Homo sapiens: one gene and its partners. The protein of the gene in region 2 purifies or fractionates together with the protein of the main gene of each other region. This does not show direct contact. Each region holds a gene or a part of one and is shown on either strand. Other genes may lie near its edges. The genes, in order: GOLIM4, SLC13A3 and HS2ST1.

The links.
Region 1: the proteins of SLC13A3 (region 2) and GOLIM4 purify together in Homo sapiens (affinity purification with mass spectrometry; one large-scale study listed by BioGRID and IntAct). This does not show direct contact.
Region 3: the proteins of SLC13A3 (region 2) and HS2ST1 purify together in Homo sapiens (affinity purification with mass spectrometry; one large-scale study listed by BioGRID and IntAct). This does not show direct contact.

Annotation. Positions count from the first base shown.
Region 1 is NC_000003.12:168,089,297-168,092,950, forward strand, and holds part of GOLIM4 (Golgi integral membrane protein 4), read right to left. Parts: intron 1-3,654. UniProt on the Homo sapiens protein: Plays a role in endosome to Golgi protein trafficking; mediates protein transport along the late endosome-bypass pathway from the early endosome to the Golgi.
Region 2 is NC_000020.11:46,616,955-46,620,608, reverse strand, and holds part of SLC13A3 (Na(+)/dicarboxylate cotransporter 3), read left to right. Parts: intron 1-3,654. UniProt on the Homo sapiens protein: High-affinity sodium-dicarboxylate cotransporter that accepts a range of substrates with 4-6 carbon atoms, such as the citric acid cycle intermediates succinate and alpha-ketoglutarate (2-oxoglutarate), as well as other compounds including N-acetyl-L-aspartate.
Region 3 is NC_000001.11:86,921,110-86,924,763, reverse strand, and holds part of HS2ST1 (heparan sulfate 2-O-sulfotransferase 1), read right to left. Parts: intron 1-3,654. UniProt on the Homo sapiens protein: Catalyzes the transfer of a sulfo group from 3'-phospho-5'-adenylyl sulfate (PAPS) to the 2-OH position of iduronic acid (IdoA) or glucuronic acid (GlcA) within the heparan sulfate (HS) chain and participates in HS biosynthesis.

The DNA of each region.
Region 1 (3,654 bases), on a different chromosome or scaffold from region 2:
ATGTTTTAAGTTCTAACGCTGCACTTGAAAATTAGTACACCTACCACACATTGCCCACACTTGTGGTCTAAATTGCTGAGGTCTATGAACCACTCTGTTGTATATGTTTCCTCAATCATCCAAAATGCAAGCTACACCCTTCTAAGCACTGCACATCAGCTAACACTATTGATTCTCAAGATAACCTTTTGTAAGCACTATTATCCTGATTATTACATATGAATAGATTGAGTCACAGAAAGGTTAAATAACTTGCCCATGACCACACAGCTAGCAAAATAAGATAGCAGAAAATCAAATCCAAGTGCTCTGACGCCTCAGCCTGTATCTATTATACCTCACTGCGCACAATACCACCATATATATGCACATTAATAGGCCAAGAAAAAGTACTACATAGGTACTACCAGGCACCAGACGCTGGAGATGAAGGAATAAAAAAAGCCTGGTTCTGTGCTGAAGATGTTTCTCTCTTTTTTTTTTTTTTTTTGAGACAGAGTCTCGCTCTGTTGCCCAGGCTGGAGTGCAGGGGGGTGACTGGGCTCACTGCAACCTCTGTCTCCCAGGTTCAAGCAATTCTCATGCCTCAGCCTCCTGAGTAGCTGGGATTATAAGCATGTGCCACCACACCTGGCTAATTTTTGTATTTTTAGTAGAGATGAGGTTTAGCCATGTTGGCCAGGCTGGTCTCAAACTCCTGATCTCAAGTGATCCACCCGCCTCAGTCTCCCAAAGTGCTGGGATTACAGGCGAGAGACAGGGTGCCTGGCCAATGTTTCCTTTCTAAAAGTAGATTTAGGGAAGGTTGAAAGCAAAGAAGTAACCAATGACAAGATGTATTCATGCTTAGGCCAGTGGGCCATCCTGAGTGTTAGAGGAGCCCAATGCAAAAAACACTTAAATAACAAATGTCTGCACACCGAAAGAAACAACACAGTAAACAGCCTACAAAATAGGAAAAAATATCTGCAAAGTATGCACCTGATAAAGGGCTAATATCCAGAAGCTACAAGGAACTCAAGCAGCTTGACAAGAAAAAAAAAAATTAAAAACTGAGCAGAGGACATGAAAAGACATTTTTAACAGGAAGCTAGACAAGAAGACAACACACATAGGAAAAAATGCTCAACATCACTAAGCATGAGAGAAATGCAAGTTAAAATCACAGTGAGATACCATCTTACACTAGTCAGAACGGCTTTTATTAAAAAGTCAAAAAACAACAAATGTTGGCAAACATGCAAAGAAACGGGAATGCTTATACACTGTTGGTAGGAATGTAAACTAGCACAACCTTTCTGGAAAACAGTATCAGGATTTCTCAAAGAACTAAAAATAGAGCTACCATTCACTCCAGCAATCCCAATACTAGGTATATACCCAAAGGGAAATAAATAATTATACAAAAAAGATACCTGCACTTGTATGTTTATTGCAGCACTATTCACAACAGCAAAGATATGGAATCAACCTAAGCGTCCATCAACAGAGAACTGGTAAAGAAAATGTGGTATATATACACCATGGAATACTACTCAGCCGTAACAAGGAATGAAATCATGTCTTTTGCAGCAACATGGATGGACCTGGAGGCCATTATCCTAAGGGAAATAACTCAGAAAAAGAAAAGTCGAAGATAGCATGTTCTCATTTACAAGTGGGAGCTATACAACGGGCACACATGGACATAGAGAGTGGAAGTGGAGACTACAAAAGGTGGGAGGCTAGCAGGGGGTGAGAGTTGGAAATTTTCCTGTGGGGTAAACATGTCCATTCTTTGGGTGCACTGAAAGCCCAGACTTCACCACAACTCAATATATGCATGTGAGAAATCCACACTTGTAACTCTGCACTTCTACACGTCACATTTGTGACCTTTTTTTAAAATTTTAAATAGTTGTAACATATTCATCTGGAATAGGAACATATAAACCTTACATAAACTTTTTCTGGATGGTTTCTCCTTATCCCTGGAAGTCCAAAAGCATTGCAATACTGTGTTTTAGGAATGTCAGGCTCTTTGCCTCTACACTAAATGCCTTTTATAAAAATTTAAATAGTTATATCTCTCTCCCAGATCTCACAGCACATAATTATTACCTTAGCAGTCACACCCTCTCCTAATCTGATATGATCCAGAACAGAGTTAATCAGTAACCGCAGTCCAAGTTTAAATTGTCAAGGAAGGTCCTTTCTTCTGATTAAAGTACACTGGATGTTTGCATATTCCTTGATGTTCATTTAAGGTACAATAAAAGGAGGTGGTTAGCTACATAAACAAATTCTGCCAATTTCAAAATTTGAAATTACCCATGACAAACCTGGCAAGAGTAAAAGGGATAAAGCAGCTTACCTCAAAGAGGGATTCTGATAACAGCTAACTTTTAACGAGCAGTACCTACTATATGCCAAGTATGTGCTAAGAGCTCTACAGTCTATCATCTTCATTAATCCTCACAATACCTCTATAAAATAGGTTATTCTAATCTCCACTTTATAAATAAGAAAAACGTCAAGGTTCACACAAAAGGTTGTAGAACTAGAACTGAATTACAGTCTAGAAACCAGTCTGCTTTTAATCACATACTCAGATAAAAAATTCAAGTGTCTCTGGGGCCAAACAAGTAAAGTAAATGCACGGAAAGGCTCAGTTTTAAGATTTTTTATAGAGGTGTGGCTCTCAACCTTGGCTGCACACAGGAATCACCAGGGGAGCTTTAAAGACTTTTGAAGCCTGGGTTCCACCCCCCATAGACTGTTATTTAATTGGTCTGGGAGCCACCAGGTGATACTAATGGGCAGTCTAGACTGAGAAACACTGCCTATAGATACAGACAATGGAGCATGGCTCACTTGAAAGCAGTTTAAAAACTTTAAAGGTTATATAAACACTGTGCTGGCCAAAGATTGTTATTACCTTTGCCACCAGTATGTGACCTCTGTCCCACTCCTCAGTATAATTAAGGTGCCAGTATGGGAGATAAATAGATGACTGATTGCTAAGAGGGATAGATAAACAGGCAGACATAGATATTTTTATAGTGGAAGGGGTTTGCCTAGTCTCTGACCTTTCTGCATGCCATCCCCACCATCTTCTAGTTATGGGGCTCTTCTACAATAAAACTTGTTAACTTGGGGTTACAAGTAACCCACTTTCAAAGGAATCTATGGAGTATAATCTATTCTTAAACTGAAGGTGACCTAAATACGCTCACTTAACGAACGCACATCATCAGATTATAGGTCTAAACTACTGAAATTTTTTCAAGAGTCATTTTTAAAAAGACCACTCTTTTTAAAGTCATTAATTCTGATCTTAATCCAAGCCAGGTCAAGCAATCCCACCTAACTAAACAAGTATTAAGACTGGAGAGCCTGATGTCCTAAAAGCCCATCTATGCAGGTGGTACACAGTGCTGTTGAGTAAAATGTCATTTGTCTTGGAAAAGGGAAGCAAAAGTTGCATACCACCAGAAAATGTACATTAAATGGCTTACACATGGGAAATCCAAAATAAATGCTACTGAAGTCAAAAGTGAATCCACAAAAAACAAAAACAAACAAAAAAATACTTTAGCCTGCTTGTGAAATAATTATTCATGCACAATTATACTGCAAGTTTTGTAGCACCATAATTAGAGAGGAAATGACAAA
Region 2 (3,654 bases):
AAACAAATTATCCATTTGTAAACTAGAATTTCTTTGTAGCATTGTCCCCATAAACTGTTCATAAAGTGTCAATTATTTCATTATTCTTCCATCCAAACTTCATCATCAATTTGATATTTGTTTTTGCTTCAGTTTTAGCAGAATTCATGTTGCTCTGATAGGGGCTGTTTTCGAACTATCCTTTTTAGTGCCTCAAACTAGATTCTGTTCAGACATGTGATAATAAGTTAGTATGAGTTTATTTTGGTGCAAAAATTTGAAACCCATGCATAGTTTTTAAATAATACATACTTTTCATGAACTTTTTGAAGATCCCTTGTCTTAACCTCTCTGTGCCTCAATTTTCTCATTTGCTAAATGTAAATGAAAATAATACTAACCTTCCTTTCATAAGGTTGTTTAATGAACAAATAGACATAACATACTTAGAACAGTCCCAGGCACATAGTAACATTCAATAAATGTTCTTATTTTTTCCATCACTGTGTGACAGAGATATTCTGAATTTTGCAATAGCAAGGATGAAAGCACACACATTAAGTTCTATTAAAATGTCAGGTATTATTTATTGTTAGGAGGATGGAGAAGGTGAGTGTTTTAGTCAGGAGTCTGAGTTGCAAATGACAGAAACTTGAATCACAGGGACATTAAGTCACCTATCCAAGGTCACGAAAGTCATGGTGTAATCAAGCTATAGTTCAAATCCAGGAAGTCTTGCAACAAGCCCATGTTCTTAACCGCTGTGCTGTTCTGCTCTTCTGTGAACCGAGTGCTGTGAGAGCATAGATATTGGAACTGACCAGGACTTTAGGGTGGGGGTCACAGGATAAAAATGGCCTTTACAAGATGAGTCATAATTCACTAGATGAAGAAGCAGAAGAATGTTCCTGGCAAAAGGAAAAGCATGTGCAAAGGCCCAGAGAATGACAAGCAGCGTAGACTGCTGAGAGAACTGTGTCCAAGATAACAGAGAAAGTGGGGAATGTGGGAAGCCTGTACTGGGACACACTGATAAGCTTTGAATGCCATGACTGTGAGTCTGGGGGCCATGGGGAGCCAGAGGAGGTGTTTGAGCAGGGGAGTGACATAATCTGAAGTGCATTTTAGAAGTATTCCTTTGACTGCTTATGTGGAGGATTCATGAAGACAAGTGCAAAAGTTGAGAAATAGTCTCAGTGAAAGCTGATGAAGTTTGACCTTAGTCAAGGGCAGTGCAGATGGAGAGGAGAGACCTAAAGACTCAGGCTCTAATGACAGAGCTTGGACTCTATTGTATCAGATCATGCCTGGGACCTCTCTCAACTGGGTTTGGCTCAGATAAACCCCAAATCCAGCTGGAGGACATGAGCCTTTTTTTGACTCAAATACAAAAGAGGCTTCCAGCATAGGCAAGAAGGCAGTCCCTCTCCTTCTCTGTGCCAAACACCTCTCAAATCCTAGCTCGGAAAGATGTCACCCTGTCTGAGAAGGCTTCTGTCTTAGATTGGGTCTTCAGAAGGACCCTGAGACAACAATTTGACTGCAAGGAATTTGGGGGCAGTGGAGAAGGGAAACAGTGAAGAGCATGGAAGAAATACAAGTGTGCCAATGAAGAGGTTACTACCAGCAGCAGTGACTCAGCCTTACTGGGGACTTCTGGGAAATGGTATTCGACATGCCTCAGTTATCCCACTGAAAGGCAACTGAAGTTCGTGGCTAGGAGCTACTCCTGGAGTGTTATTTCTTGGCAGTCTTGGCCAAGTGTGCTTCTGAAACCGGAGAAATCTGAAGACGTCACTGGTGTGAACAGGAATGATGGGCACTGAAGCGAGAGACGGAGGACTGTCTTAGTCCATTTGGGCTACTATAACAAAATACCTTAGACTGGGTGATATTTAAACAATAGAAATATATTGCTTACAGTTCTGGGGGCTGTGAAGTTCAAGATCAAGGCACTGGCAGATTCAGTGCCTGGTGGGGCCTTGCTCTTTGCTTCAAAGACAGTGCCTTATTGCTGTGTCCTCACATGGCAGAAGGAAGGCTCTTAGGCCCTTTTTATGAGGAAACTAATCCTATTAGTGAGGGCAGAGCCCTCACGACCTAATCACCTCCCAAAGTCCCTGCCTCTTATTACCACTACAATGGGGATGAGGATTCCATGTATGAATCTGGGGGGACAGAAACACTGAGACCATAGCAAGGAGGTGCTGAGGTGTCTGCCCTTCTCAGACCCCACTGGCTGACACAGCTGCCTTTCACCTTTGCTCCATAGCTCACTGTCTTAAACTCTGTTTTAGCCCTTGTCTCTCTGGGAGGTGAATGATTTGTCTTCATGTCTGTCTCCTTGAGCAGTGGAAGCATATGAACCAAGGATGGGCTAGGCACCAAACCTTGAATGCCTAGTAGAGGGGTGGACTACAGTCTAGGAATCTAGGACCAGGGATGGGCTGGGCACCAAACCTTGAATGCCAAGTAGCGGTGTGGACTACAGTCTAGGGGTCTAGGTGTCTCATAATAGACCTAAGATGAAAGTGAAACATCTTATAGTCATATCATTTTCAAAACGCAAAGATGAGGATTGTCTGAAGGGGTCCAAGAGTTAATTTATGGTATGTCTGGGCTTCTGTGGGAATTTGAGACTATAATCTCCACCGAGGACTCATATTTACAAATTGGGATACCTGTTGGTCTGGTGAGTGGTACACAGAACAGGATACATGGGGCATTCCTTCTTGGGTCAGCAGGAAGATTTGATAGAAAGTAATTGTATATTTTTAAAAGCACGAATTCATTGTGGAGCAGGATACCAAGCATGGGTGGAAGAAAGTCAGTTTTGCGCAGAATGTGATGCAGATTTCCTGGCCCAGGGGGTGATACATGGATGTTCTTCTGCCTGGAGGCCCACAGTGGTGTGCTGCAGCCAGCTTATGCTGGCTTGGGAAATGTGCTTGTCAAATTTTTAGGAATTCTAATAGCCAGTTATTAAATACAGACCTTAATACACACACACACACACACACGCACACACACACACACACACAAGTTTTTCAGAGAGCCAATTGTTCAACATTTACCAACACACATCTGTTGTTTGAGGGATATTTGGCAGAAAGAGCCTGGGAAGGTGATTTGGGTTTGAGAAGCACTGTAGTTTTTTTTTGTTTGGTTTTTAGAGACCAGGTTTCACTGTGTTGCCCAGGCTGGACTTGAACTCCTGGCCTCAAGCAATCATCTTCCCTAAGCCTCCCAAGTACCTGGGACTATAGGCACCTGACTAAGAACTGTTTATTGGTTGGCATGGCCAGATTTACTTGTTAAAAATTTAGGCTATGTCTTAGTCATTTTCCTTGTACCAGCTTCCAGCCCAGGGCATAAAATGTGGTCAGGAATAAAGTTTGCTAAATGGATGGATGAATGAATGATAGCTTGGATCAAGCTTTTTCTCTAAGTTGTAGAAACATGTTTTCATCATTCAACAGATATTTTGAGTGCCTACAATGTGCCAGGAACTGTTCTTGGCACTGGGAACACAATCCCTGCTCTCCTAGAGCTTGCATTCTAATAGAGGAGAAAACATATAAAGCTATAAAATCTGCTTTCAGGTGGTAACCGGTTACATAAAAGAACATGAAGCAGGATAATGGGCTGGAGACAGAGTTTCATGCTGCTTTTGTA
Region 3 (3,654 bases), on a different chromosome or scaffold from region 2:
GTGGGCCAGGCCCAGGGTCCCCGTGCTATGTGCAACCTAGGGACTTGGCACCCTTTGTCCCAGACCTCCTGCCATGGCTGAAAAGGGCCAACGTAGAGCTCGGGCCATGCCTTCAGAGGGTGCAATCCCCAAGCCTTGGCAGCTTCCACATGGTGTTGAGCCTGCGAGTGCACAGAAGTCAAGAACTGAGGTTTGAGAACCTCAGCCTAGATTTCAGAAGATGTATGGAAACACCTGGATACCCAAGCAGAAGTTTGCTGTGGGGCGGGGCCCTCATGGAGAACCTCTGCTAGGGCAGTGTGGAAGGGAAATGTGGGGTTGCAGCCCCCACACAGATTCCCTACTGGGGCACCACCTAGTGGCGCTGTGAGAAGAGGGCCACTGTTCTCTAGACCTCAGAATGGTAGATCCACTGACAGTTTGCACCGTGCACCTGGAAAAGCCACAGACACTCAATGCCAGCCTGTGAAAGTAGCCAGGAGTGGGGGGCTATATCATGCAAAGCCAAAGGGGTGGAGCTGCCCAAGGCCATGGGAGCCCAACTCTTGCATCAGTGTGACCTGGATGTGAGACATGGAGTCAAAGGATATCATTTTGAAGGTTTAAGATTTCACTGCCCCGCTGGATTTCAGACTTGCATGGGGCCTGTAACACCTTTGTTTTGGCCAATTTCTCCCACTTGGAATGGCTGTATTTACCCAATGTATCTAGGAAGTAACTAACTTGCTTTTGATTTTACAGGCTCATAGGCAGAAGGGACTTGCCTTGTCTCAGATGAGACTTTGGACTGTGGACTTTTGAGTTAATGTTGAAATGAGTTAAGACTTTGGGGGACTGTGGGAAGGCATGATTGGTTTTGAAATGTGAGGACATGAGATTTGGGAGGGGCCAGGGGTGGAATGATATGGATTGGCTGTGTCCCCACACAAATCCCATCTTGAATTCCCCTGTGTTGTGGGAGGGACCTGGTGGGAGGTAACTGAATCATGGGGGCAAGTCTTTCCCATGCTGTTCCCATGATAGTGAATAAGTCTCAAAATATCTGATGGTTTTAAAAAGAGGCATTCCCGCCAGGCGAAGTGGCTCACACCTGTAATCCCAGCACTTTGGGAGGCCAAGGTGGGTGGATCATGAGGTCAGGAGATCAAGACCAGCCTGGCTAACACAGTGAAACCCCATCTCTACTAAAAATACAAAATATTGGCCAGGCGTGGTGGCAGGCACCTGTAGTCCCAGCTACTCGGGAGGCTGAGGCAGGAGAATGGCGTGAACCCAAGAGGCGGAGCTTGCAGTGAGCCGAGATTGCGCCACTGCACTCCAGCCTGGGTGACAGAGTAAGACTCTGTCTCAAAAAAAAAAAAAAAAGGCGTTCCCCTGCATAAGCTTTCTCATTTTTTGCCTGCCACCATAAGATGTGACTTGCTTCTCCTTGCCTTCTGCCACAGTTGTGAGGCTTCCCCAGCCATGTGAACTGTAAGTCCAATTAAGCCTCTTTCTTTTGTAAGTTACTCAGTCTCAGGGCGTCAAAACGGGCTAATACAGGATGTTAAGGAAAGAAATGATACATAATTTTTTAAAGACCTATATTAAACTTCTAGAAGGGCAGGGGGAGGAGTGGGAGGCAACGCCTGAGATAAAAAATAAACTGGGTAATATTAAAAGTGGATTACATACTGCAGAAGGATTGGTGAATTAAAGACCTAGCAGTAAAAACTATCTAAAACAACACACACACACACAAAAAGACTGAGAATGATGAATAGAACATCACTGAACTGTAGAACAATTTCATGTGGTCTAATGTAAGTGTATTTTGAGTTCCTGAGAGGAGAAGCAGCATAGAAAAACTAACGTGAAGAAATAATAGCCAAAAATGTTTAAATGTAATAAAAACTGTAAACTCACAGATCCAAGAAGCTCAACAAACCCCAGGCACAAGAAACATAATACAAGGGCACAAGAAACATAATTTAATAATTAAATAATTAAAAACCTAGTGAAACTCTTAAAAGTAGGCAAAAGAGGAAAAATAAAAGACACGCTACATATAGTTGAACAAAGAATGATGGCAACCTTCTCATCAGAAACAATGCAAGCCAGAAGACAATGAAGCAATATCTTTAAAGTACTGAAACAACAAAAATGTCAGCTTAGAATTCTATACCCAACAAAAATATCCTTCAAACACTATAGCAAATAAAGACTTTTTCAGACACACAAAATGAAAAGAATTCATCACCAGTATATTTTTAAGTGTAAGTAATGTTAAAAGAAATTCTTCAGAGTGAAAAAAATGGTACCACATGAAAATCTGCATACACACACACACACACACACACACACAAAATGAAGAACACTGGGAATGGTAAATATGTCAGCAAATTTTTAAAAAATTTTTAAACATTTTATATATTTTTAAAATATAAGTTAAAGCAAAAATAATAATGTATTGTAGGACTCATGTATAGAAGTAAAATGTATAATGACGATAGCAAGAACCCAGAAAAAAGTGGTAATATATTAAGGTTCTTATACTACACATGAAATTCTATCATGTATACCATAAACCCTTAAGCAACCACTTAAAAAAAAAACAACAACAAAGAGCACTGCTAGTAAGTCATCAAATTAAAAAATGGAATTTAAAAATACCCCTTTAATCCTAAAGACAACAGAAAAAAAGGAATCACAGAACAGTTAAGATAAACAGAAAACAAATAGCAACTCACGAATTTAAACCCAACCACATCAATAATCACATTAAGTGTTCTAAACATTCCATTAACAAAAGAGATTGTGAAATTAGATGAAAGATTAGATGCTGTCTACCAAAAATCCACTTTAAATATAAATACACAAGTAGGTTAATATTAACAGGATGGGAAAAGATATACCACCTGACACTAATCAAAAGAAAACTGAAGTGTCTGTATTAGTATTAGACAAAGTAAGTATCATAGTCCATTGTGTGGTACTATAACAAAATACCTGAGACTGGGTAATTTATAGAAAACAGAAATGTATTTCTTCACAGTTCTGGAAACTGAGAAGTCCAAAATCAAGACACCAGCATCTGTTGAGGGACTTCTTGTGGCATCCTCACATGGTTGGGGGTAGAAATGGCAAAAGGGGGACAAATGCTGTCTTCTTACGTAGAAAAAAGAGAACACACTGCCACAAGCTCTTTTATAACAGTATTAATACAGTTATGAGGGGAGAGCCCTCATCACCTAAACACCCTCCACCTCCCGCCCCAATACTGTTGCATCGGAGATTAAGTTTCCAACATGTGAATTTTGGGGGAGACATTAACACCACAGCAGTAGGTTTCAGAGCAAAGAATATTACCAAGGATAAAGATGGTATCTTGTATAAAAAAAAGGGTTGGTCCATCAAGAAGACATGACAGCCTAAATGTGCATATACTTAATCACAGCACTTCAAAATACATGAAGCAAAAAGTGACATAACTACAAGAAAAACAGACAAATCCACAATTATCAAAGATTTCAAAACCCCTCTCCATAACTGATGAAGAGGCAGAAAAAAATCAAGAATACAAAACACCATAACAATACTACCAACCGACATCTACAGCATACTTCAGCCAATAACAACAGAATACATATTTTTCACGTTCACCTGGAACATTTA